Regions from separate parts of the Homo sapiens genome. Here region 1 is linked to region 2. The links come from fine-mapping of genetic effects on gene expression. A gene starts in region 2. The other region holds a variant in brackets. All regions are shown on one strand. Distances are from middle to middle.

Region 1 (3,017 bases), 75 kb before region 2:
TTACAGGCATGCACCACCACGCCCCGCTAATTTTTTGTGTTTTTAGTAGAGATAGGATTTCACCGTGTTGGCCAGGCTGGTCTCAAACTCCTGACCTCAGGTGATCCACCCACCTCTGCCTCCTAAGGTGCTGGTATTACAGGCATGAGCTACCGCGCCCAGCCTTCTAGCAACTTTAAATGAACCTGATTTATCTGAGCTACTCAGACACCCATGTTTGCAAACCTTCTTGACTGATAACCCAGCCAAACCTGGAGGGGTCCACAGTGCCATCCTCTCTAGGATGTGTTTTTCCATATTAGTCTTTTAGCCATGTGAGTTGGGACCAACTAGTCAGATGTGCTGATGCCTTTCTAGACCTCTCCCAGGTACCAGAAGGTGACAGGGAGAAAACAGTGACTGAAACAGAAGGGTTTGGGGCTCAGGCTTGTGTGTATATGTGCTGAGGGGTAGGGGAAAAGGAGAAAGGGCAGCCTAGAAGGGAGAAAGCTGCAGAAAAAGACAAGCAGGAATAAAGCAGTATGATTTGCTTGGCTATCCAAGGAACACAGAGAGCTGAGCTTTCTTTGAAAACCAAGAACAGCTTGATCTCTGAGGAGCGTCAGGCCTGGGGTGGCTTATATCTCAAACAAGGTAAGCTCCAATATAGGATATAAGATCTATAAGAAAAGTAATCTTGGCTGGGTGTGGTGATGCATGCCTGTAATCCCAGCATTAGGGGAGGCCAAGGTGGGAGGATCGCTTGAGCCCAGGAGTTCAAGACCAGCCTGTGGAACATAGGGAGACCCCCATCCCTAAAATTTTTTTTTAATTGTTTTTTGAGATGGAGTTTCTGCTCTTGTTGTCCAGGCTGGAGTGCAGTGGCATGATCTCAGCTCACTGCAACGTCCGTCTTCCGGGTTCAAGAGATTATCCTGCCTCAGCCTCCCTGGTAGTTGGGATTACAGGCGACCGCCACCACACCTGGCAAATTTTTTGTATTTTTAGTAGAGTTGGGGTTTCACCATGTTGGCCAGGCTAGTCTCAAACTCCCGACCTCAGGTGATCCACCCACCTTGGCCTCCCAAAGTTCTGGGATTACAGGCATGAACCACTGCAAACGGCCTGCAAAAAAGTTTTTAAAAAGTTATCTTGTCTGACTTGCTCACCACTGTATCCCCTGCACCTACAATTATACTGAATGAACAGATGAGTGAATGAATGAGTGAGTGAATGAATGAAGTGAGTTGAAACTAGAGGGATCAGAGAGAAAGTTCTGATTTTCACAATGATCAAGGGCATTTGAGTCTCAGGACTACAGTCAGGTTACATATGGATTAAAGTGATAGGAAAGTTGGTTTCAATGTAAACACTTGACTTCTAAGGTGGACCTGGTGGGCTCTTGAACTCTACATGACCCCACTGCTTGCACAATGACCTGCAGTAAAAGAATAAGGGAGGCAGGCATTCCTGTGGCCACAGCCTTGCCCCTGCCCTGCCCTCCCTTCTGAATCCAGGTGGGGGCAGGGAAAGCCACAGTGTGAGCAGAAGACCTGGGCGTGAGG[A/G]CGTTGGTGCCCCCCTTCCCCCCTCCCACTGCATGGCCCTCGCCACCTCACCTTCCCTTTCCTCTTGCCTCTTCTGGAGGTATCCAAAGGTGAAGGGATCAGTAGTTCACCTCTAAATAGCAGTTCATATTTAAATGTTTACTTAATGTTCATACATTTACAAGTGGCAAAAATGGAAGTGGTCTTAAAAATTATTCAGAACACCCTTTTTTTTTTTTTAAGATCAGTCATATGGAGGCCCGAAAGGGGAAAGGGACGCATCTAGGGTTTCATAGTAGTGGAGTCAGAACTCAAACCCAGGTCTCTGAACTCCCAGGTCATTGCTGCTTCTACTGTTAATGATTTCAAAGTAGTTTCATGGGAGGAGCTGAGAGTGGAGCTCACACCTATAGTCCAGCTACTTAGGAGGCTGAGGCCAGGATTTCGAGGATTACTGGATTACCAGGAATTTGAGACCAGCAGTGAGACCCGTCTTTAAAAAATGTAGTAGTGTTGTGGGAAAGGAAGATGTATCAGCAGTAAACTAGGGAATTTGTCATGAGAATGAGCCTTGTGGATCTTGTCCTAGTTCTAGAAGATATAGTACATCATAGAAGGGAACTGTGTGGACCTACCAGATCTACATTACAAAAAGTGTACGTGAAAAATTACATTTATTAGAAACAGAGCAGAGGTTGGCATGGTGGCTCATACCTGTACTCCAGTATTTTAGGAGGCCAAGGCAAGCAGATCACTTGAGGCCAAGAGTTTGAGACCAGCCTGGTCAACATGGCAAAACCCCATCTCTACCAAAAAATACAAAAATTAGCCGGGTGTGGTGGTGCATGCCTGTAGTCCCAGCTACTCAGGAGGCTGACGCACGAGAATTCCTTGAACCCAGGAGGCAGAAGTGCAGTGAGCCGAGATCGCACCACTATACTCCAGCCAGGGTGACAGAGTGAGACTCTGTCTCAAAAAAAAAAAACAAAACCACAACAGAGTAAAGTTTTGCCCCCAAGCCTGGTACTCATTGCTGCCCCTTCTCAGCCGTACACAAGATACATTTGTTATTACTGCATGGTCTTTTACATATGAAAGGCATTTCACACACGTTATTCAAGTAAGAAATGGTTATGTCTGGTTTTGTACATTTTGATGTAAAACTGTTATTTCATAATTGATGTCTGAAAATACAACATTATACATTTATACACTAAATAAATTATCTCTAAAAATCCCTTCTATTGACAATCCCAGGTCACCCTTACCTTGATGGTACCAGAATCGGCAGAAGAATCAGCCCCATAAATTTTAAAGACTTCCTCAATCGGGATACTGTTCTGTTAAACAACAACAGCAATAACAAAGTATGATCATACCATGGCTTTTCTTTTATTATAAAACAAAGCTAATATAGCTCCAGTATGTCTAAAACTGTGCTTGGGTATCATAAGTATTAAATACAGTAAATAACTTCTGATCAATGGATAAATC
Region 2 (2,751 bases):
TTTTACCATCTTTTAACTAAAACAGTGAAGCTTTATTGTTACTACCATGTGGAACATAATTGTATTTCTTCTGGATCTGATTTCCATGGGATGGGCTTGAGGCCCCACTGGACTGACTTCTCCACCTTTGTTGCCCCTCAGATTTTGTCTCCAACCCAATCCCAACTTCAGAAGGAAGGGCTGTTCCAAGACCAGCAGGCACCAGCTCATATGAAGTAGCTGAATCCTATCTCCTAACATAATTGTGCAATTCCAGAAAATAAACCTGGAATAACAATACAGAGTAGTTTAATGAAAAAAAAGAGCCATTTAATATTATTTTCATCAACCTCAAGTTTTTGGCCAGATTGTTTTTTGCCGAGTTCATGAACTACAATAATTTCTGGGCAAAAAGGATCTCTTGCAGATAAGACACTGTATTAAAAGAAACAAGGAAGCTGTTGGAATTCGTTGTTGGAAATATTCCTCACTCATTCCCTTGCAGTGCCTCGGCCTGCCCCCAAGACCAGTTAAACACTGTACTGCCACATCAAAGAAAGTACAGAAGAAGGGGGAAAATTTGCTAATTCTCACCTTGACAGTGAATAGATTTCTTATCACCCCAGTTCCTCCCAGTCTTGCAGACTCAACTGAATGTAGTTTATCGCCTAAAACAAAACAAGGAATAAAAGTGTTAACATACAGAACACTCACAGGAGAATTTAGCTGTTTTTAGTACCTGCCAGACAGCCCAGTTTATCCGGTTTAAAGTACAGTGCTGAGTGTACTCGGTGGGACAAAGGCCAATTTTAGGCCCGCAGGCACTTTCCAAATAAAGGTCATGGGAGCACAATTTATCTCTGCGTGTGCGAGGGCGTGCCCCCGCTTCGCCGCCCGTTAGCAGGTCTTGGGGTTTGCATGTCCTTGCTCTTGGCCTGCACCCGTCCTTATGGCCGTTGTGCAAGAGGGCTGCAATCAAGGCTGGATCGGTACCTCCTTCCAGGTCTCCACGCCCGCCCCTCCCCTCCCCTCCCCTCGCTGGTGCTGGGACCTTTTAAACTCCAGGCACCCGGAACTGGCGGGGGTGTTTCCCCCAGCCCCCTCTCGCCCCGTGTGGCCTAGCGACCCCTCTGAAGGCCGCTGGAGCTCCGCCCCTCCACGCCCCCTGGCGGACGCGAGGGATCGGCTTCAAGGCTATTCCTCGCCGCCTGAGTTGCCTGCAGACGCCCGTCTGCGGCTTACAGCCTTCTTTGCATCCAGCCCCCAGCTGCTGCACGTTTTCTTCCTCCTACACTCCAGGCTTAGTCTTCTACATGCATTCTTGCAACTTCCACCCCTCGATTTTCCAACCCAAGTGCAGACCTGATTTTCCCCTTGTCGTTGCATCCAACTTCCTCACCGCCCAGTTTCTCCCTCCCAGGCCCAAAAGCAGACCTTCTGCATATCCAAGCATCCAGCATCCCCTCCTTCCCTTTTCTTTTCCCATTCTCAATACCTGGATTTGTTCCCTTCTTTGCACGCAGGCCTTGACTCCCTCCACACCCAAGATCTGCGCTTTTTTCCTTTACCCCATTCCTGCCTTCTGCGGAATTAGAGCCACCCCTCCACAGCCAGGGACCGGGGCCGCCCCTTGGAGCCTGAGGTTACCTGCCGGGATGATATGCTGGCGAAGAGTTGGGGCGCCACAGCCGCTCACAAGCTCAGACTCACAACCACAGCCTGGCAATCCCAAACCGGACTCCCAGTGCCTCCGCTTCTGAAGTAGACTCTGCAGAAACCCGGGACCACAGGGTAGGTCCGAGCTTTTCCTCTTCCCGGCTTTGTCCCCTCCCAGGCCCCGCCTCCTCAGCCCACCTCCCCCAGCCCCGCCCCCGACACGCCTCCAATCGCCACACGCCAATTCCCGTGGGATGGGCGGAGTCAGCGAGAGGGGCGTGGCCACAGTCAAAGATGGAGAATCCATGGTGCCACTTTCCCGGTGATCCCGGTGGGGGAAGGGGTTGCCGCCCGGCAGAGATTCAGTCCCGAATCCCGACAGCGAAGAGACTTGTATGCCACCTGCAGGCCGGGGAGCGGGGCGCGCTGGGGCTGCACCACCCCGAACTTTGTAACAATCTAGAGCACCACAGAGTGTTTCCAGGTCGGCACAAAAGCGAACGGGACAGGGCGCCCTGGGCGGCGGCAGCTTGGCCGGCCCGCTGCCTAGCGCGCCCCCGAGGGGCGGTAATGGAACGTACCTTTGGCTGAAGAAAGAGTGCTCCCGGCCAGCGCGGGGTCGCCTAGGGGGTTCCGCGCTGCCTAATGCAAAGGATGGAAAAGTTACAGAAGCAGGTCCTGACACCACCTATGTCTAGGTCTTTAGAAACTCCATTGATTGTTTGCATTAGAAGATAATGAATGGGATTCTTATTATTTTCTTTTTTAAGACAGGGCCTTGCTCTGTTGCCCTGGCTGGAGTGCAGTGGAGCGATCACCGCTCACTGCAGCCTTGACTTCCTGGGCTCAAGAGATCCTCCCACCTCAGCCTTCCGAGTAGCTGGGATTACAGGTGCACACAATCACACTCAACTAATTTTTCTTTCTTTCTTTTCTTTTCTTTTTCCTTTGGTAGAGATGGGTTTCAGCAGCCCAGGCTGGTCTCGAACTCCTGGACTCAAGTGATTGGCCCTCCTCGGCCTCCCAAAGTCCTGGGATTACAAGCGTGAGCCACCATGCTCAGTTGGCGGGGGATTATCTGTGATCCAATGAAGTTGGACTAGAGATGTGAAGCCT

What was found. PIP is the estimated chance that this variant, and not a neighbour inherited with it, causes the effect.
Region 1: its variant is fine-mapped to the expression of IDH1 in nasal epithelium (TOPMed, PIP above 0.99).

Annotation. Positions count from the first base shown.
Region 1 is chr2:208,177,954-208,180,970 of GRCh38, forward strand. C2orf80 (chromosome 2 open reading frame 80) reads right to left here. Exons shown (of 9, transcript NM_001099334.3): 6 at 2,792-2,863. Among named protein-coding and RNA genes, the nearest start is that of C2orf80, 11 kb to the right of the region's middle. The variant A/G (reference allele first, on the strand shown) is at 1,545.
Region 2 is chr2:208,253,313-208,256,063 of GRCh38, forward strand. IDH1 (isocitrate dehydrogenase (NADP(+)) 1) reads right to left here and starts at 1,759. Exons shown (of 10, transcript NM_005896.4): 1 at 1,627-1,759; 2 at 574-647. It overlaps IDH1-AS1 (IDH1 antisense RNA 1), which reads left to right and starts at 1,921. Exons shown (of 2, transcript NR_046452.1): 1 at 1,921-2,119; 2 at 2,591-2,751. RefSeq lists a silencer at 904-1,013 and an enhancer at 1,467-1,993.